Linked DNA regions of Homo sapiens: region 1 is linked to region 2. Evidence: fine-mapped expression QTL. A gene starts in region 2. The other region holds a variant in brackets. All regions are shown on one strand. Distances are between the middles of the regions.

Region 1 (11,244 bases), 74 kb before region 2:
CATCCTATAAAAATCTCTGCCAATTATTCTTTTTTTTTTTTTTTTTTTTTTGAGATGGAGTCTGGCTTTGTCATCCAGGCTGGAGGGCAGTGATGTGATCTTGGCTCACTGCAACCTCCGCCTCCTGGGTTCAAGTGATTCTCCTGCCTCAGCCTCCCGCGTAGCTAGCTGGGATTACAGGTGCCCACCACTACGCCTGGCTATTTTGTGTATTTTAGTAGAGACACAGTTTCGCCATGTTGGCTAGGCTGGTCTTGAACTCCTGACCTCAAGTGATCCTCCTGCCTTGGCCTCCCAAAGTGCTGGGATTACAGGTGTGAGCCACCACGCCCTCACAGAACAATGTATTCCTTAACTTTTTATATGCTTTTTTTAGATTGAAAAATTTCAAAATTATAAGCAAATTTAATGCTTGAAATTGGACATCAGCATTGAGCTGGAGAAAAATCAATGGTTCCTTCTGATGTGAAAGGAAGCAACAATATATAAATACAGGTCTATGTCTTCATTTCTCCTTGTAACAAAAATGGGGTATTCAGTGTTGAAAATTTCCTTAGGCAATTCCCCAAACAACTACTTAAAAATACCCAGAGTTGGCCACTTGTTCTGTGCCTACATCAGACTCCAAAAAAGGAACAAACACTTTCAGCAATGGTGATTGACCCTCCTATAAGTTTCTCTCATTTTAAAACATGGGAAAATCATCACTTCTCACTCAATAGAAGAGGTTAGGTTTAGGGCCGTGCTATGTTTATTTTATTGCTACTATGTAAGCCAACTTTGATTCTGGCCAGAACGATCAGCTTATGTTTATATCAGCTTTAACAAGATCCATAACTGTTTTCCCTCTTCACTAGCCTGGCTATATGTGGGATACAAACTTCTGTGCTTCTCACAAGGAAAAAAAAATCCAATTTCAAAGACTCAGGTCTAACCACTCAGGTGACTTTAAAATCAAATTATTCTATAGAATTTTACAGGGTGACAGCATATTTGTTGAATGATATGATATTGATGTGTACATGAATTTTTAGTTGGAGACTAAAATCTGTTTTAGAAATAGATCCAGTGCTTTTTAGAAAATACTTAAATTTTTCCCATTGATCATATAGTTCCCTAAAGTTTTAGCTTTTTAAAAAATCTAAATGGCATTATGCTTTTAAAGAAAGGAAAGTGGAACGTTTGATTATGAAATGTAGGGAATGCTAATGTTTTATAGTTTATGTCTTCAAGAATCAGTTTTTAAGTTTTTTTTTTGTTTTTGTTTTTTTTTTTAAGACACAGTCTCGTTCTGTCGCCCAGGCTGGAGTGCAGTGGCGCAATCTCGGCTCACTGCAAGCTCCGCCTCCCGGGTTCAAGCGATTCTCCTGCCTCAGCCTCCTGAGTAGCTGGGACTACAGGTGTCCACCACTACGTCCGGCTAATTTTTGTATTTTTAGTAGAGACAGGGTTTCACCATGTTGGCCAGGATGGTCTTGAACTCCTGATCTCGTGATCTGCCCACCTAGGCCTCCCAAAGTGTTGAGATTACAGGCGTGAGCCACCGTGCCTGCCCCAGTTTCTAACATTTTTTATAACCATCATACAATTGAAACAAGGTGCAACTGGACTCACGAGGTCATGGGTCAATTTCCTGTGAGTGTGGGCTTAGACCGTCCAGCTTGTTCTCCTGCCACCCACTCTTAGCATGGAAGGACGAAGCGGGTGACAATCAGCCAACATGTGCTCAAATAGCTAGATGTTCGATACTGAGTAGAAAAATCCTTACACATCAGCTGAGTTTTTCCATGTTTACCCATATATTTTGGCATAGAATGAACTAAATCTGTGATTTTTCAGCATGTTATGGTTGTAGAGTTCATGAACTATTATTCCATCTTGGGAATACTTTGAGAAGTAAAAGTAAATTTTATTATTGCAAAAGATGCAGTAATATTTAGTATTTTGTTTTAAAAGTCAAAACTTACTCAGCAAATGCACGGCATACAGATGGTGAAGAGGTGATTCAGTAAAGTTTTGGTTTCAAGAAATCCTGGCCCACCTAAGTAATCTCCAGCATAGCAAGGTTTATCTTAAAGATAAAAAAGGATCAAAAGGCCCTTGAGAATTAGGCAGCTACCCCCTCTGTCTCCCTCTCCCTCGTGCAAGATTATCTGCTCCCCACCTATGACTGCTCTCTCCCTTTCCTCAGAGTGGATTCTTCCCCACAGCCACTTGTACTGGCCTCACATGGTCACCTGTGCCCCACTTTATCATGGCTCACTGGCCCCTCTTATCATTTTCTCCCTCCCAGATTATTGACAGATGAATGGGATTTTCACAGTTTACCTTTTCAATGTGGCTCTGTATCCTTAGCAAACCTATGGATTCTCTGCCAGTGGCAGAATAGAGACAGTTGCAAACTCTTTTCTTCTCCCATCGAAAGATGAAGTCTGATTTCCCTCTCCTTAACACTGGCTTTGCCTTTGAGATTTGCTTGATGCATAGAATACAAGAGAAGTAACTCAGAAGAAGAACTTCCAAGGTTAGGTCAGAAGGAGCCTCGCAACTTCTATCTGGGTCTCTGGTAGAACCACACTCTTGCCCTTGGAACCATGAGCTGCCACTTTGCTAGAAAGACCTTGTGAAAAGGCTCTTGGACAACACAGATAGGAGAGGAGTCCAGCTGAGTCTTGCCTTCCTATGCCCCCGCCAAGGTGCCAGCTACAGGAGTGAAGCTATCTTGGACCCTTCAGACCAGATCAGCTATCAGCTGAATACCATCCACCATCCTGAGTCAATGCCACGTGCAACAGCATCACCCACAGGAGCACTACCCAAATCTCTGACCCACAGAATGATGAAATTTAATACAATGGTTGTTTTAAGCCACTAAGTTTTAGGGTAGTTTGCGATGCAGCAGCAGATGCAACGCCTCTGTTCACAGCGGCTAAGACTCAAAGGGACGCAAACCAAGCAACCTACGTCTACCCCAGCAAGGACAGTGGGTAGAAATTTCCTTACAGAAAAGACTGCATGTCATCAGGAATCATAACTGAAATCTCTCAGTTAATTCCTATCCTAAATTTCCCTCGAGGATATAACAAGGAGAAACAGTATTAAGTTACAGCTAGACTCTGGTGGGATTTAGATTAAAAATATAAAAGTACATCTAGATGCTAGATGAGACTAGTGACGTCACGAACCAGACTGAAACTTAATCACATTAAGAAGCAGGTAATCATATTCAAACGAGATTTGTACTTGGTAACTTAAGGATAATTACATCTCAAAGCCAAGGACTATCTTTGTCAATCTCATGTTTTCATGATCAGCTGAAGCAGAGAAATTAATACATTTTAATGATGAAACTTAGCCTACATGTATTTTGTAGATATTCACTTAGAAGTGAAAAATATGATGTAAAATCAGTTATGTGTAGATATTTTTGGAGAAAAAACCTTAAAACTTAGAAACCAGTTACATAGTCATTATTAACTTAAAACAGATCATACTGATATATTTCTCATATTTCATGCCCTTCCTTAAAGACAATGATTTTTTCTCAAACATCAAACATTTCAGCCTTTACATATTTCTCCAGAAACCACCACAAGCATCCATATAGTGTGTTTACTGTCAGGTTTATTCTGACTTGCCTTCACAACAGTTGACTCTCAGTTTAGCTTGTTGATTCACAGAAAAAAAAACCTGAATGCCACCAAGAAATTTCCAAGAATTGTTAAAAAAAATTAAATGTGAAAAGAAGAACCTCTGATCCTTACTCAATGTGTTCTCTATTTTTCCCTCGGACTAATTAAGAAAAGCATGTTAATTATAATGGATTCCAAATGTGCTAACCTCCAGTTAGTATTTTTTAAAGTATTGACTATTTTGGCCAGTCCAAGATTGCCTATTAGATTATAAGCTCCTCTGAGACCCAGAGGCCATGCCTTTGTTGTCATTGACCAGAAAGGGAGAAAGAGTAAATCTCTGTTCATTTTGGGGGGTGTGATAACTCCCATTTCAGGTGTGCTGAAGGTGGCAGTGATGGACATTTGCTGTTTTTACCATCTAGCATCTGTTTATTGCTTTTTTCTCTCTTTTTTTTTTTTTTTTTTTTGAGACACAGTCTCACTCTGTCACTCAGGCTGGAGTGCAGTGGCCTGATCTCGGCTCACTGCAAGCTCTGCTTCCTGGGTTCACGCCATTCTCCTGCCTCAGCCTCCTGAGAGGCTGGGACTATAGGCACCTGCCACCAAGCCTGGCTAATTTTTTTGTATTTTTTTAGTAGAGACGGGGTTTCACTGTGTTAGCCAGGACGGTCTCGACCTCCTGACCTCGTGATCTGCCTGCCTCGGCCCCACAAAGTGCTGGGATTATAGGCGTGAGCCACTGTGCCTAGCCTGCTTATTGCTTTTTTCAAACTAGCTTCTCCTTGAGGAGAACAGCCTTCCCTATTTCATCCATCTGATTTGGGTGGACAGAAGACCTACCTCCAACTGCAAGGATGAGACGTCACGGGCTTCAGTTGATCAACACAGCTCAGCACCTTTGCAGACAGATTTGCTTAGAAATGTCCAAATAGTCTATAGCCAAGGTGGTATGTTTTAGGGCTTCTGAATAAATAAGAGCTTTTATTCTCCGGCTTGCAGGAGCTCCTGAAAAGCAATCTCCTTCTTCTCCTGAGTGTGATGTTGAAGATCTGTAACTACAGTCACCAGTTTGCCGCCAGGTGGGAACACCAGTTGGGAACAACA[C/T]GGGCCTGCGAGGGATGCCGCTGAAAGCAGGAAAGATTAGTGACACAGACAGAAGCTGGACGAAGTCTCACCTCAGGTGCACATCTGGGCTTCGCAATTTTATGAACCTGTAAGTTCTCTGATTCCAAAGGTGAGTTGTATTTTGGCTTATGTTTTGCAGCTGAAAGATTTCTAACTTCTTTTCCACCACAGAATCTTTGAATGATTTAGATATAAACTTCAAGCTCCATTTAGGTCAGTGATTTTTGTCTGTATTGTTCACTGATGAATCCCACTGCCTTGAGCACAGCCTGGCAATATTAGGTGCTCAGTGAATATCTGTTGATAAAACGCGCAAAGTTGGTTCAGCCTTTAAGAAGATGAATGTTGTTAATAACACATGCCTAATGAAAGAATCTGAGTACATATTCCTAGAATACACACATAAAATTTAAAACACCTAAAAATGCTTAAATACATTTAAAAAAACAAAAAACAAAACTATAACGATTGGTGAGATTCAGCCAGTAGTGTGTTGGAGCTGGCTTGTCCTGGCTTTGGAGACTGAGCTGTATACATCTCCTCCTGATTCCGCATCCAGTGTCTTCATGTTGGCAGCCTGAAATTGACCAGAGGGGGCATTTATACCATGGTAATCGGCAAACACTGCAAATGAGGGGTTTATTTCCTCTCCTCTGCCCTACCCTCCCAGAGAGCCAGTTCAGCATTATTTTTCCTAGAAAAACCTTTTAGTGAGGTGAACACTTTCTTTTAAAAAAATAAAATCTTCCCATTTCAGAGCTGGAAGGAAACTCTGAAGTTTTCGACTTCGGTATCCTAAGTTGACAGGCGAGGAATCTCTCCATGAGCTAAGTTACGGAGGTGACAGCACACCCCGGACCCTCAATTTGCAAGATCCAAATCACACAGCCACTCCGCAAGAAAAAGCGTGGGAAATAATCCAAACACATGCGTCTCTAGCGAGATGCCAGGCATTTGTTGGGGAAAATATGTCCCTCCAATTATATGATGTCAGGGATCACTCTAGATGGGGTTTGTGTGGGTCAAATGTGGTACCAGGACCCCTAGATCTGGCCAGGCCTATCCCAGGCTCACTGTCCTGCAGGGACTAAATACCCAGCCGCAGCCTAGTGTGCTATCTCTGTAGGTTGTGTGAAATGACTCAACATTTCCTGCTCTTTCTCAAAGGTAAACTCACACCAGCCCTTGCGCGGCAGGCCAATTCTCCCTGACGATCACACAGACAGGCCTGCATGACGGTCACACAGACAGGCCTCCTGACGATCACACAGACAGGCCTCCTGACGGTCACACAGACAGGCCTCCTGATGGTCACATAGACAGGCCTGCATGACGGTCACACAGACAGGCCTCCTGACGGTCACACAGACAGGCCTGCATGACGGTCACACAGACAGGCCTCCTGACGGTCACACAGACAGGCCTCCTGATGGTCACACAGACAGGCCTGCATGACGGTCACACAGACAGGCCTCCTGATGGTCGAACAGACAGGCCTCCTGACAGTCACACAGACAGGCCTGCATGACGGTCACACAGACAGGCCTGCATGACGGTCACACAGACAGGCCTCCTGACGGTCACACAGACAGGCCTCCTGACGATCACACAGACAGGCCTCCTGACGATCACACAGACAGGCCTCCTGACGGTCGCACAGACAGGCCTGCATGACGGTCACACAGACAGGCCTCCTGATGGTCGAACAGACAGGCCTCCTGACGGTCACACAGACAGGCCTCCTGACGGTCACACAGACAGGCCTCCTGATGGTCGAACAGACAGGCCTCCTGACGGTCACACAGACAGGCCTCCTGACGGTCACACAGACAGGCCTGCATGACGGTCACACAGACAGGCCTCCTGATGGTCACACAGACAGGCCTGCATGACGGTCACACAGACAGGCCTCCTGACGATCACACAGACAGGCCTCCTGACGATCACACAGACAGGCCTCCTGACGGTCGCACAGACAGGCCTGCATGACGGTCACACAGACAGGCCTCCTGATGGTCACACAGACAGGCCTGCAGAGCGCTCCAGTTACACAGATAGATTTCCACAGCACGGCCGTCACATGGAACGAATAGTTAAACCTAGGGAAATCAGTGCCCAGACGTCAAAGCTAGAAATGAAACATAAGACGGTCAGTAGGAGCCTTACATGGCCTTCTCCCTAACCTGGAGCAAGCTGAAATAATAGACAGTTTTACATTCCTAGTGCCAGGACCCGTCTCGGGTCGACAAAATCTGAGACGAGTCAAGGTAACAGAGGCAGCTGTTTGAATAGATTCATTGGAGGGTCTAAGGTAGCTCTCTGGGCCAAGCTGTAAAGGAGATGAAGTAGAAATGATCACTCCGGTGCCACAGTAGACGGGCCTTGAAGGTACTGGGGCCTCACAGCTCAATCGAACTTAGGAAGCATTTCTTTGCCTCTGACCTTCTAGTTGAAACAAAATTCGTTACCAATAGACTTAGGCAATGCTATACTGCACGCAGGCGCATAACCTCAACCTATATTAGCACTAAGAAAATTGTAACACTTTGAGTTGGTCTGGTGGAATTCTCTCTGGCCTTCTCCCTGCATCCGGTTACAGCAATAAATTCCCTTCTTTCCTAGTTTGTCTGCTTCTTATTATTGGGCCCCAAGAAAACGCAGCGAGACCCAGCTTGGTTCTGCGAACACTTGTGCACCAGAATCGAAGGTAAGGCAATAAAAGACCTTGATCTTTATTATATCCTGCGAGCCAAGAATAATGACTGTCTTTTTCTGGGAAATAAAATAAATAAATAAACACACATAAGAAGAGATGGAGAAAATTATCTCAAATTTCCAAAAAAAAAAAAAAAAAATCTCGTTTTCCCTCACCTGAAGATGATAAAACAAGGCATTAAAGTAGCACAGACTGATGATCCTGGTGTAATGCAGGCTGTGTATCTTGGTTTTCCCTGTAAGGTACCCTGCCAGCTCCCAGCTAGGACTCTAGGCATCCTCCACACTCCTCCCTGCCCCAGGCACGTTTCCTTGATGCTGCGAGGAGCACGTGGAAGGAATAAGGGCATTGCGGTTCACTGCCGTCCCAGAAAAGCTGCTGTCCCTGTCGCTGATGTCTAAGAGTAGTCTGGCACTGGCTGGGAGTGGTGGCTCACTCCTGTAATCCTAGCACTTTGGGAGGCCGAGGCGTGTGGATTGCCTGAGCTCAGGAGTTCAATACCAGCCTAGGTAAAACGGTGAAACCCCATCTCTATTAAAATACAAAAAAAAAAAATAGCTGGGTGTGGCGGCGTGTGCCTGTAATCCCAGTTACTTGGGAGGCTGAGGCAGGAGAATTGCTTGAACCTGGGAGGCAAATATTGCAGTGAGTCGAGATCAAGCCATTGCACATTGCACTCTAGCAGCCTGGGCAACAGAGTGAGACTCCATCTCAAAAAAAAAAAAAAAAAAAAAAAAAGAGTAGTCTGGCACAACTGTAAAAGCAGTGTAACCCTGATTATGTCAACTTTGTGTGGATAAATCAGGTGTTATTTTCTTTATGGGATTTTTTTTTTTTGAGGCGGAGTCTCGCTCTGTTGCCCAGGCTGGAGTGCAGTGACACGATCTCAGCTCACTGCAAGCTCCGCCTCCTGGGTTCATGCCATTCTCCTGCCTTAGCCTCCTGAGTGGCTGGGACTACAGGTGCCCACCACAATGCCCAGCTAATTTTTTTATATTTTAGTAGAGACGGGGTTTCACCGTGTTAGCCAGGATGGTCTTGATCTCCTGACCTCATGATCCGCCCTTTTACCCATACTTAGTTTTTGTTTTCCTTCCAGAGGAAAGAAGAAACAAATGCCAATCTAAAAACATATGGAGTTTCTATAGTCAGTCTATTTTTTCTTGGCCGATCGTTTGATCAGTAATAACTTTGCACTTAGCATGACCTAGGTAATGACATTATTTCTATCATTATTGCATTTTCCCTATTTGGATAATCAATTAAGTCAACAGTATTTAGAATTTTGCTGCTCAGACTGAGTCACTGGAAAAAAAAAAATAAGCCAGTGAAAATATAGACCCCAGATTAGAGGCCCAGTCGGGATCAGGCCGTGGCTGACGAAGTGGAGTGGAAGCCGCAAGAACAGGGAGAGGCTCCTGCGCTGACCCAGGGAAGTGTGCTCCGGCAGGCGCTGCATCTCTCCTTTGCTCAGACACCCAATGCTTGAATGCTTGGAACAACTGTCTTCTTCTTTTTCTTTTCTTTTTTTTTTTTTTTTTTAGAAGGAATTTCACTCCTGTTACCCAGGCTGGAGTGCAATGGCGCGATCTTAGCTCACTGCAACCTCCGCCTCCCGGGTACAAGTGATTCTCTAGCCTCACTCTCCCCAGTAGCTGGGATTACAGGCATGCGCCACCATGCTCGGCTAATTTTGAATCTTTTTTTTTTTCAATGGAGATGCGGTTTCTCCATGTTGGTCAGGCTGGTCTCGAACACCTGACCTCAGGTGATCCACCCATCTCGGCCTCCCAAAGTGCTGGGATTACAGGTGTGAGCCACCACGCACGGCTTTTTTTTTTTTTTTTTTAGATGGAGTTTTGCTCTTGTCACCCAGGATGGAGTGCAGTGACACAATCTCTGCTCACCGCAACCTCCACCTCCCAGGTTCAAGTGATTCTCCTGCCTCAGCCTCCTGAGTAGCTGGGATTACAGGTGCCACCATGCCCAGCTAATTTATTTACTTAATTATTGTATTTTTAGTAGAGATGGGGTTTCACCATGTTGGCAAGGCTTGAACTCCTGTCCACAGGTTATCCACCTGCCTTGATATTTAAAAAATATCTACTGTAAAAATGTGCTTAGTGAGGAACACGTATGCACGCTGGCTAGAGAGAATCAAAATAGGCTCTGCATCAATTACTCAAATTAGTCCAGAAACTGTTCTACAAACGAGCACTGGACTTGGAGAAGCCCACGCCAGCCCTTGACATCCGGGTTACTACAGGAAAACTGCCTGCCTCCCAGGGCTCTTGTTTTCTAATCTTGAAATGAGGAATTGGAGTAAGAAACTCTAGTACCCATTCGTATTTTAACATTTATTGGTTCTGAATGTTCTTACCTCCTTGTAGTGCTGAGCCAGTTTCTGCAGATAATCTAATATGCATATTTCCATCAGCCCCAAAAGGCAGGTCTGCTGGAAGAGTGGAGGAAGGACAGGCGCTCATCGAGTAATCGCCAAGGAGAGGCATTTAGATATTCCGGCTACTTAACTTAGAAAATTAATATTAAGTATCATTAGCATTGGCATGATTGTTCAAATGACATTATCAATTTCTAATAAATAGATCAAAAACTCATGCATGGATTCAGCAGTTATTCAGTAGGTGTCAAATGGTCTGTGTTCAAATATTTGAAGTCTAGCGGTGGGGGTACTATTTAAGACATCACAAGACAGTACTGTATCAACAGCAAATAAGCTGGTTAGTTCAGGGAAGAGGAGAGTTCATCTGGATGTGTGTATTTCATAAGGTCCCGATGGGGACAGCGGCACTCATACGTGGTCTTAGAGAATGTATGTGGCTTGAATAAGTGGGGGAGCGTTCACAGGACATTCCCTGGGGGCTGAGATAGCGAAGGGGGACAAACCTTCTCGAGGAAGAGTGCCTGCCCATCTGAACACAACAGAAGCTTCCTCTGGGCCAGTGGAATGGCAGTGGGAAGGGAGCCTCGGCACCCACTTCTGGAGACAGGACATGTCAAGCTCAACTGTCAGTAATGACCCACGCATAACTATCATACTTCCCAACGCTGTGCACACACGGCATTACCCACCCGTAACCATCATACTTCCTAACACGGCACACACGACATTACCCACCCATAACCATCATACTTCCTAACACCGCACACACGACATTACCCACCCATAACCATCATACTTCCTAACGCCCCACACACGACATTACCCACCCATAACCATCATACTTCCTAACGCCCCACACACGACATTACCCACTCGTAACCATCATACTTCCTAACACCGCACACACGACATTACCCACCCATAACCATCATACTTCCTAACGCCCCACACACGACATTACCCACTCGTAACCATCATACTTCCCACCCATAACCATCATACTTCCTAACGCCCCACACACGACATTACCCACTCGTAACCATCATACTTCCTAACACCGCACACACGACATTACCCACCCATAACCATCATACTTCCTAACGCCCCACACACGACATTACCCACCCATAACCATCATACTTCCTAACGCCGCACACACGACATTACCCACCCATAACCATCATACTTCCTAACGCCCCACACACGACATTACCCACCCATAACCATCATACTTCCTAACGCCCCACACACGACATTACCCACTCGTAACCATCATACTTCCTAACACCACACACACGACATTACCCACCCATAACCATCATACTTCCTAACGCCCCACACACAACATTACCCACCCATAACCA
Region 2 (11,244 bases):
AAAATGAAAACATATCCATAAAACTAAACTGCAAATGAATGACACAAGATTTACCTGCACAGTGTCATGGCACTATGGGGCTGGCAAGGTAGTAGCATAGCCATGGTGCCAAGGCAAACTTCTCAAATCTCTCTGTGCTTCAGTCCCTAGAAGGAACTCAGCTACAGGCGATGCCCGATCAGGTTGAGGTTTGGAATGGGCCCTGGATACTGGCATTTTTAAAACTCTTCCCAGGTGGCCGGGCATGGTGGCTCTTGTAATCCCAGCACTTTGGGAGGCTGAAATGGGAGGATGGCTGGAGGCCAGGAGTTTGAGAACAGCCTGAGCAACATAGCAAGATCTCGTCTCAATAAATAAATAAATATTCTTCCAAGGCAATTTTGCTGTGCTGCTGGGTTTAAAGCACTAGCAGGACAAGACAGTCATTGTTTCTAGTATATATGTGAACACATTGCAGGAGGGAATAACATATACAAATTAGCGCTTAAAAACATTCAGGAAGGAACATACAAAGGAGCAAAGAATTATATATTCAACACATGTTTTGTGCTCTAGAAGAAATTAAACAGAACATGGAATCAAACAAAAATTAAAGATAAAATAGGTCAAAAGAGAAATTGGAGAGAAAATAAAGCAAAGGAAGGACAAAACACCATTAGAAACACCCAGGAACAGAATGATCAGCTGCCAGCAAGTCAGTGTCAGCAAGGGAAGATCTGAAATGCTAGCAAAGAGGAAGAAGAAAAAGATTAAAGACATTGAAAGGAAAAGATATGGAGGACAGACAAGATACAAAATAAAGCAAAACATAACATTGCTCTCAAATTTGAAACACGTGACAGGAAAGTGTTAATTTAGAGAGGTAAAATTCAACAGAAAATTAAAAGGCATGAAAATGGCTAATTAATATGTGGAAGGATTCTGTGTAAATTTAGAAAAATGAAAACAATGTATTCAGTTGGTGCAAAAGTAATTGTGGTTTTTGCCGTTAAAACCTCTTTGCAGATCACATCATCGAAAACTGAAAAGATTGATGTGTGGGCAAAGGTGTAAAACTAGAAACTTGAATATAATGTTGAATAAAACTATCATTTTCAATTCAAATACCACTTTACTTCAGCACATTTATCTTACATATACACTCGCAACTAGGAAAGGAATATGGACAAGCAAAGTCACTGTGTCATTTTTAGTCATTGTAAAAACCAGAAAAAATCTAAAGTTTTGTTTGTAAAGGATTGGTTTAAAATCATGGAATATCCATACAATGAAAAAGGTAGGTGTTCACTGGGAAATACAGTAGCTGTCTATGTTGATAGGGAAAGACCTTCAAGATTGCTCAAGTGACACAACGGATATCTAACAATACGTATGAATGCATACCCTCCTGTTAGGGAAACAGGAGCCTAGGAGAGTCAGGGTGACACCACTTTAAAATCAACTCCATCTTAAACCTAATGAGGCACATTCCTTGCCAGTTACCACCTGTATTAGCCTCTTCTCATGCTGTTAATAAAGACATATTCTAGACTGGATAATTCATAAAAGAAAGAGGTTTAATTGACTCCCAGTTCCGCAGGGATGGGGAGGGCTCAGAAAATGTAGAATCATGGCAGAAGGGGAAGCAAACACGTCCTTCTGCACATGGTGGCAGCAAGGAGAAGTACAGCAAGGAGAAGTGTGAAGTGGGGGAAAACCCCTTATAAAGCCATCAGATCTCGTGAGAACTCACGCATTATCACAAGGATAGCATGGAGGTTACCGCCCCCACGATTCGATTACCTCCCACTGGGTCTCTCCCATGACACGTGGTGATTATGGGAACTACAGTTCAAGATGAGATTTGGGTGGGGGATACATGGGTGGGACACAGCCAAACCATGTCACCACCCATGGTCATAGAATGTTAATAGCTGAGAAAAACGCCTAATGCCTGCAAGGACAAACTCTTATGACAGCAAAATGTCCCAATGTCCCAATATCACATAGCAATATATGCTTTTAAAGATAATTATAGTCATGCTGTGGTGTGTTTGTGCACTAAAGTGCCAAGGACAGCTTTCTTTAAACCAACGAGGAATAAATTTTGTCACACCGTCAGCCCACTGGCGTGTAGACATAATGTAGCTTAGCTTTTACATAGATAAGACCCCTATATAAGAAAAACTTAAGACAAAGATGAGGGGTTCCTCCTCTTGCTTTCTGAGGATGCCCTACTTTGTATCTGGGTAGGTTTCAGTAAACTCTCTCTCCTCACTGCACTCTGCAACTCACCTTGAATTCTTTCCTGCACAAGATCCAAGAACTCTTACTTGGGGTCTGGATTGGAACACCTTTTCCTGGCAACACTCCTATTACACTTGAAATTTCAATCGTATGCCTGTATTTCTTCTGTTTCAAATGTTAAAAATTTATATGTTTTCCGTGAAAAAAGAGTTGGAATTTTTTTTAAGTTTTAGCTTTTTATGGAGAAAAATTATTAACTAGAAAATTAGACTATCAGAGAGACTTATAGTTTCACCTCGCTAAGATTTCATTCTCAAACATGGGCCATTACTTTTACTGGAAGTAAAAAATTATATAATTATATTGGAACTAGTGTTGAATAATTTTATTTTTGTTCACATAAAGCAACATGAATAAAATACACAATAACTATAACTTAAATCTGAAATAAGCACTAAAATTATGTGCACAGCATTCATTTTGCTATTCTGCTGCAAACAGAATATTTTCTTTTCATAGCACCTGCAGTGAAGGTCTCAAAGGAGTCTTGCATGGAAGGGCATTGAAGGGGACATGAAATTTTAACTAATACCACGAGCTCACATGCTTCAAACCCAAACTTGCTTATAACCAACCAATGTCACTTCTTAGAGAACAATATTACAGGTTTTTAGTATTGTGCTATTGTTTTTCCTTAAATTATGTTTTGTTATCTGAAATCCCAATTAATGGTTTTAGTTTTTTTTTAATTTTTGTAAGACAGGGTCTTGAACTCCTGGGCTCAAGTGATCCTCCCGCCTCAGCCTCCCAAAGTGCTGGGATTACCGGTGTGAGCCGCCGCACCTGGCTAATGTTTGCTCTGGACACCATAAGACTTGTTAGCATAATCGTAAGGAGACCCTGAAAATACATATTTTAGCTGCTCCCAGAGTCTCTCTGTGTTTCTACAGGACAGTGGGAAACTGATGTAAATAATTAAGAAGCAAATTAATTATTTGTCAGTTACGTACCCATCCTGACTTCCAGCATGGAGACTTAAATGAAAAGCAGAGGCAGCCAGGTGCCAATTACTTTTACAAGCTTCATTCTTAAGTTGAATTAGGAAAGACTAAGATGTAACCAGATGTATGTATTATCAAGTGATGAAAGTTATCTGCTTTTTAAAACACTTTTTGATTTAGTCCTCCTAATTTTCCTATGATTGCAACTCCCAAAAAGAATCATAACATAAAACCTACACCTAAGAAAATTCTGTTCTGATGCAGGGGAAATTCATCTACTTGCAAAAGCACACTGCAGGATTGCAATTCAGATGTCAAGTTAACCTGATGAGTGATTTGAACACACACACACACACACACACACACACACACACACACACTTGCTTTGTAAATTAAAAATCTGGAGCAAGCCACAGAACATGGTCCCTTTCAGAAGGGAGTGTCTTTGTTCTGCATAGCTCCTGTCCTGATGGTGTGGGCACCTCTGAGTGGTCTCTCCATTGTGCTGGACCTGGTTGCTGTAACTAACAATGGGTGGCTCTCCTGGTCTGAAATCTAAAGAGCATGTTAGTCACCTGCAAGCCTGCTCTTATTTAAAAGAGCTGGTTCACCTCCTTTTTTACATCGTCAAATTAGATCCCCTCAGAGAAATGCCAGAATGTTCAGTTGACACATTAACGCTGAATTAAAACTAGCTACAATTTCCAACTTGCAGATGGTGGTGAGACCAAAGGTAATAACAATGAATTTGTCATTCAGCCACAAGGGATTGATGCAGCCAATTAAGGCTACTCTCTGCCCATGAGATTCTGCTCAGGTTTTCTACTCCATCGTGACTAGGGGAGATCACCGGAAGGGATGATTTCTTCCACTTACATCACACAGAACTCCTGCAAAGGGGTTTTCACTCCACAAACACTTGTGATGGCTCTTATTATGTTCCAGACACTGCTTGAAGCCCTCTACAACTATTAACTCATCTAATCCTCCCAACAACGCTTAATGGTGAGTTCTATTACTCCGATCACTTAAGAGGAAACCTGGATGCTAAGTAACTTGTCCAAGGTCACACAGCTAGTGAATGGCACAGCTGGGATGTGAACACAAGCGCTGTGACTTCAGAATCCAGGCTCGCCCTGACTTTGCTACACCACTCCTGTGCCCGAGATAAAGCTGGGTTTCCAATCTCCGCATCGTTCACATTTAGGGCCAAGTAATTATTTGTTGTTGGAGGCTATTCTATACATTGTAGTGTCCCTGGCCTCTACCCACTGGGTCCCTGGAGTAACCCTCCCTCCCCTGAGCTGTGAAAACCAAAAATGTCTTCAGATACTGCCAAATATCTCTTTGGGGACAAAATCATCTCGTTGAGATATCATTCTCTATGTCTATCATAGAAATAGAATGACTAAAAAGAAGAAATAATAGAAAAATGTGGCATTACTAAAAACAATCGTAGTATGTCCGTCTCTGTACATTTTGAGATAGAATTATTAGGAAATATCTCAAAACAGTCCTCTCTTTTTTTGAGACGGAGTCTCTCTCTGCTGCCCAGACTGGAGTGCAATGGCACCATCTCGCCTCACCGCAACCTCCCCCTCCTGGGTTCAAGCGATTCTCGTGCCTCAGCCTCCCGAGTCGCTGGTATTACAGGCACCCACCACCACGCCCGGCTAATTTTTTGTATTTTTTAGTAGAGATGGGGTTTCGCCAAGTTGGCCAGGCTGGTCTTGAACTCCTGACCTCAGGTGATCCACCTGCCTTGGCCTCCCAAAGTGCTGGGATTACAGGCGTGAGCCACTGCGCCCAGGCTCAAAATAGTCCTTCTTTTAGCTTTTATGTTATCTCTCCTTCCTAGCTTTTTTTTTTTTTTTTTTTTTTTTTTTTGGCTTAGGCAGCTAGGAAGCCCAGAGCTCTATCTTCACCTGAAGCCACGAGCATTTGAGGAATTATGTGCTCAATATTGTTAGATGCCGCATATGCACAGAAATAGAGGAAGTTACACGGGTTTCAGCCTCGTTGAAGAAAAGCATCGACAGGGAAATTAGAATCAGTCAAGCAGCCAGAACATATGTAAATGTTACCTTATGCGGCCTGTGGGAATGAAGCACAACAGGACACGTGGGCGCGGTAGTGAGCAGGGCCGGCTCTACTGAGGAGGTCGGTGAGCAGAGTCCGCAGCGGAAAAGGCGAAGGCGACGTGACGTCCAGCAAGCTCGCCATGTTGAGAAGGTAACACGGCGAAGCCCCGCCCAGCTGGGATGGAAGGCGCCGTTGGAAGGAACGTGAGGCACAGTTGGAAGCAGGCAACGGTGGGCGTTGCAGGCTCGTGAACAAGAACAGGAAGCGTGCTCGCTTCGGCAGCGCATGGACTAACATTGGAACGGTACAGGGAAGATCAGCAGGGCCCCTGTGCCAGGACGGCACGCGAATTCCTGAAGTGTTCCAAATAAATAAATGAGTAAGAACAGGAAGTGGTACTGGGCGTTTCAGGAATAATAACGAGCAGCGGGGAACCAGGGCTCTGCGGGGCTCATGGCGAGTTATGGAAGCTGTTACGAATCTGCCTTATGGTGAGGAAGACAGAGATCGAGGTGTTGGCAGTGAAATGGAAAGTAAGGGGTGATTAAGGGAAAATATTTGAAATTGAAGAATTGACAGGGATCCATGGTTTGTTAGACATTGAAAATAATAACAAATGTGGTAGGCTGCTTCTCAGTGAGCTCCCACTATCCCCTTTCTCCTGGGAGCCACACTGCAGTGGAAGCTCTTCCCCCAGTGTGGGCTAGACCTAGTGACTCATTTCTAATGAACAGAATATGGCAGAGTAAGGGGTCACTCTTACAAAAGAATGTGGCTTCCATCTTGGGTGTGAGTGGCCTCCGGGGAGACCCGCATAACAATGAAATGATGTCCCTGGACCAGCCAGAGAGGACCAGAGGACTGTCAGCAGTCCCATGAGCGAGCCTGGATGTGAATGCGTCCCCTGATCCCCGACGTTCAGCTGTGAGATGGCCGCAGCACTGGCCACAGCCTTGACTGCAGCCTTGTAGAGAACCTGGGCCAGAGGATGCTGCTAAGCCACGCCTGGACTCCTGAGCCACAGGGACTGTGAATGGATCAAAGTGTGCTGTTTGAAGCCACTAAATCCAGGGGGCATTAGTTACACAGCAATGGAGAAAAAGTACAACAAGCTTACAAGACAAAAAATAACTTTTATCTCAAACATAGGACACCAGTTTATTCAGTTTACATATTTGGAGATATGGTTTTTCTGAAAATTAACCAAAGGGGGAATGAATAAAGAAAAAGAAACATCAAGGCAAGGAAAGGAAGAGAGCCCACATCTAATAGAGGAAATGTCGTTGCCCTTTTAGTACAGAAGACAGAGATCTCTCTTCCATGGGTAATGGCTCTCCTGTGTTAGCCATCTACTTGCTGTCCCCAGCATTATGCAGCGACATATAACTGGACTATGTTCAGAAAATTAAAATGACATATTCAAGGTAAATATCTAGGAACATTTCAGCCCTTAGGAAGTAGAAGAAATACCTCCTGTTACAATCTCCATATTTTCTAATAGATAATGCAACTCATTCTGCTACACATCAGCTAGTTAACTAGCAACACTTTTTCCAGTGCTGACCAGTGCAGGAGTTCTTTGAAAGAATTACTTGTTTCAAAGAGGTCGAAGTGCAGAGTACAATGGTGATTGCCAGGAGTTGGAGGCATGGGGCATGGGGAGAGGTTGGTCAAAGGGAGGATAGTCTCAGTCAGATAAGATGAGTGTGTTCTGAAGATCTATGTATGAGACGGTGCTGTCAATAATAATGTATTATTGTATACTTGAAATTGTTAAGAGACAAATGTTCTCACCACAAGAAAAACCAATAACTATGTAGGTGATGGATGTTAATTACTTTGACTGTGGTAACCGTTTCACAGTGCGTGCATATATCAAAACTTCCCATTGTGCGCTGTAAATATACACAATCTTTATATCTCGATAAAGCTAGGATGGGAGAAGGAAACACTTATAAATCACAGCACACTTGAAGGAAAGAGGAACAGACACCTATTTCAACATGTAAGATCACAACAGAAAGAAGAATGTGAGTTCCATGAAGGCAGGCATTTGCCTTGTTCTCGTCATAGTCCCAGGCCCTGGCGCGTGTTAGATGGTCCCTAGTGATGAGGTGAGTATAATTAATAATGGAGACTAATACCCAGGGTCCTTAACTATATGCACAAAGCAAACACACTTTATCCTCTATGTAATTCTATATTAATTAGCACTCTTAGTTTATAAGCTTACTAACCATGTCTTGATGAGTGATTCTGTTATCCAAACTTTCAAGCCCATTGCCAGAAACCAAAGCTATTGGTCAGTGTGTTAGTGGTCTCCAGGGAAACAGGAGCAATGGGATGCACGTGGTGGGTAATTTCACATGTCAGCTTGGCTGCACCAGGATGCTCAGATATTTGGTCAAATGTTATTCTGGATATTCCTGTGAGGGTGTTTTTGGATGAGACTGACGTTTCAATGGGTGAACATTGAGTAAAGCAGACTTCCCTCCATAATGTTGGGGGGGCTCATCTGAGCAGCTGAAGGCCTGAATGAAACAAAGGCTGATATCCCCCAAACAAGACGTGCTTCCGTAGCAGATGGCTGCCAGCGTTAACTGCAGCAGTGCCTCTTGGTCTCCAGCCTGCTGGCCCATTCTAGATGCTGGACTTGCTAGCCTCCACAGTCTTGTGAGCAAATTCCTCAAAATAGATCTCTCTCTCTCTCTGTACATTGTATTGCTTCTGTTTCTCTGGAGAGCCTTAACACAATGTGTGTGTGTGTGTGTGTGTGTGTGTGCACATGCACATATAGAGAGTTTTTTGAAATAATTTTTAATTATTTTTTAATACTTTTATTTTAGAGATGGGGTCTCACTGTGTTGCCCAGACGGGTCTCAGATGGGCTCAAGCAATCCTCCCACCATGGCTTCCCAAAGTGCTGGGATTACAGGCATGAGCCACTGTGCCCAGCCTAAAGAGATGTATTTTAAGGGAAGATCTGGTTCTGCAGTTCAAGTCTGAAGGCCACCTGCTGACAGAATCCCCTTTTCTCAGAGGGCGGTCGATTTTCTCTTAAGCCCTTCTTCAACTGACTGGATGAAGGCTGCCCACATAATGGAGGGGAATTGGCTTCCTCAAAGCCTACTGATTTAAATGTTAGTCTCATTTTAAATATATCCTTACAGAAACATCTGGAATAACGTCTGACCAAATATCTGGGTACAGTGATCCAGCCAAGTTGAGACATGAAATTAATCACCATGGCCTACATTTTTATCTGTTTGGCTGCAATTCTGTCAAAGGCTTCTGCTCTTCATAACATTTCACTCACTAGCTCCATGAAGCCATATGATACAAACCTTGCCTGTGTAGCCTTCACTTTTTTCCAAAAGAAGTCTATTAAATGCCAATCAAGTATCTTCTCCTCCAAGCTCAGTAGCTCGGGCCTTCAACAGCTGTTCCCCATTCCGATCCATCTCCCTGAGCTACCCTGGCATTCTTATCAGGACACTGGAGGAATCTATGTATGTGCCTCTAAAGATTCAGCACCCAAACATGATAGAAATCACTGTGTTCACACTGTATCTCTATATCTGCCCATCCCTTTAAATCAGTCCAATAAACCAGATTAGAATCAGTAATAGGACTCAGCTGCTTTCTTTATACCGTTGATGGTTCTGGTTTAAGGACCATCAATGGTATAAAGAAGGCAGCTGAGTCCTATTACTCAGCTGCTGTGTATAAAGAAGGGAGAATGGTTTGAGGATGCTAGACATCCAGCTGACATCCAGCTAACATCCTCAAACCATTTTCCTTTAACTTCTAACCAAAATGCCAAGAAAATCAGGGGGGCAAGGTTAACATTAACAACATACGACAGACCACCTAGTGTCAGACTGTGCATGGTGTTCGCGATAATAATAACAAAGATGAAGCTTGCCTGAGAAAAATCTTGGCCAGAATTCAGCACATCCTACCTAAGGACAGTCCATCAGAAACAGACCACTTGGAAAAGCTGAAAGTGTTTGTTTTCTGAAACCGAAGTACCTGTAGCAACCGGCCCAAGGTTCTGGAGAACAGAATTAATAAAAGGAATCAAACTTATGCTATTTTAGAAGGTTTCTTTAAGAACCCCATAGTGTGGCCGGGCACAGTGGCTCATGCCTGTAATCCCAGCATTTTGGGAAGCGAAGGCGGGCGGATCACGAGGTCAGGAGTTTGAGACCAGCCTGGCCAATATGGTGAAATCCCGTCTCTACTAAAACTACAAAAATTAGCTGGGCATGGTGGTGTGTGCCTGTAGTCCCAGTTACTTGGGAGGCTGAGGCAGGAGAACTGCTTGAACCCGGGAGGTGGAGATTGCAGTGAGCCGAGATCACGCCGCTGCACTCCAGCCTGGGAGACAGAGGGAGACTCTGTCCCCACCCCCCGAAGAAAAGAACCCCATAGTGCAATTATATGTATCCAGGACCCAACCCAGAAATGAGAGGAGGAGGTGCCTGCCCACTGGGAGTGTCAGCAGAGGGCTTTGCTTCATTCTACTCTCCAAGACCCTTACATCTAACCTGCTCCCCCTGACATCCAGGCCTCTTCATCTGAGGCCAAATCACTATTGCCATGCAGCTTAGGCTTGCATGCAATAATGACTTGCTTATACATTTTTGTAAATGTGCACTTAGGTCTAATTAACGATTTTCCTGTGGACAGGTGATAGACCTGTGCAGATTCTTTTTTTTTTTAAGATGGAGTCTCACTCTATCGCCCAGGCTGGAGTGCAGTGGTGCGATCTTGGCTCACTGCAAGCTCCGCCTCCCGGGTTCATGCCATTCTCCTGCCTCAGCCTCCCAAGTAGCTGGGACTACAGGCACCCATTACCACATCCAGCTGATTTTTTGTATTTTTAGTAGAGACAGGGTTTCACCATGTTAGCCAGGATGGTCTCGATCTCCTGACCTCGTGATCCGCCCGCCTCAGCCTCCCAAAGTGCTGGGATTACAGGCGTGAGCCCCCTCGCCCGGCCCCTGTGCAGATTCTTTTGGTCATTTTTGTTTGGTCCATGGTTCATTCTGTAACATTCTAAACTCTTGCCAAGCTGCAGTGAGCAGGTTCTCTATTTGCCTTCTATCTGCTAGTCATCTTTCAGTGCTGTCTATCTCTTATAGGATGGCACAGAATAACTTCCCTCAGCCACAGTTGAAGCACCTCTACACTTATGCATAAATCAGCTATATATTAGCCAGGTGTAGTGGTGTGTACCAGTAGTTCTAGCTATCTGGAAGGCTGAGACAGGAGGATTGCTTCAGCCCAGGAGGTCAAGTCTGCAATGAGCTATGATTATGCCACTGCATTCTAGCCTGGGCAACAGAATGAGACCCCATCTCTTAAAAAAAAAAAAGTCAGCTGTATGTCTGTATCCCCTTCCTCAATCCATGCCCCTATTATTGCCCTTTCCACACCAATTCTATTCCTGCCCTCCCTCCATCAGCCTCAAATTTTTAGAGCTTGCACAGACCAAATAGTAGAGTTATCTCTCTCTACTGTATTGCTATGTGAAAATGACAGACGGTGGTTTCTTTCTCCCATTTCCAGTCCCATCTTTTCAACACCTAGACAGCACCTACAAATCCTAGGATAGAAAAGTGGAGAGTAACCTACATGGAATCCATGGAAAAGCTAGTATTTCAGAAAAAAATAAATGGGGGATCATCTAGGAATCTCTAAAAAAGAGCATATCTCTGAAAGTTATCTCTGTCAAGATCCAGAAGAATATATCAACAATTTCTTGGTATCCTAAAGATATTTTATCCTCTATTAATGTATTGGGTATCCATTGCTCCATAACAAATTGCTCCCAGCTTCACGGCTTAAAGCAACACCCATCTACTCCCTTGCATTTTGCAAGCATCAGGAATCAGGCTTAGCTGGGTCCTCTGCTTCAGCTCTCACAAGA

What was found.
Region 1: its variant is fine-mapped to the expression of F11-AS1 in testis (GTEx, PIP 0.99).

What each region holds. Positions count from the first base shown.
Region 1 is chr4:186,421,762-186,433,005 of GRCh38, forward strand. All of the region lies in intron 1 of F11-AS1 (F11 antisense RNA 1), which reads right to left. Among named protein-coding and RNA genes, the nearest start is that of F11-AS1, 74 kb to the right of the region's middle. RefSeq lists an enhancer at 6,073-6,612. The variant C/T (reference allele first, on the strand shown) is at 4,740.
Region 2 is chr4:186,495,534-186,506,777 of GRCh38, forward strand. F11-AS1 (F11 antisense RNA 1) reads right to left here and starts at 5,525. Exons shown (of 4, transcript NR_033900.1): 1 at 5,312-5,525. It also overlaps the pseudogene RNU6-1055P.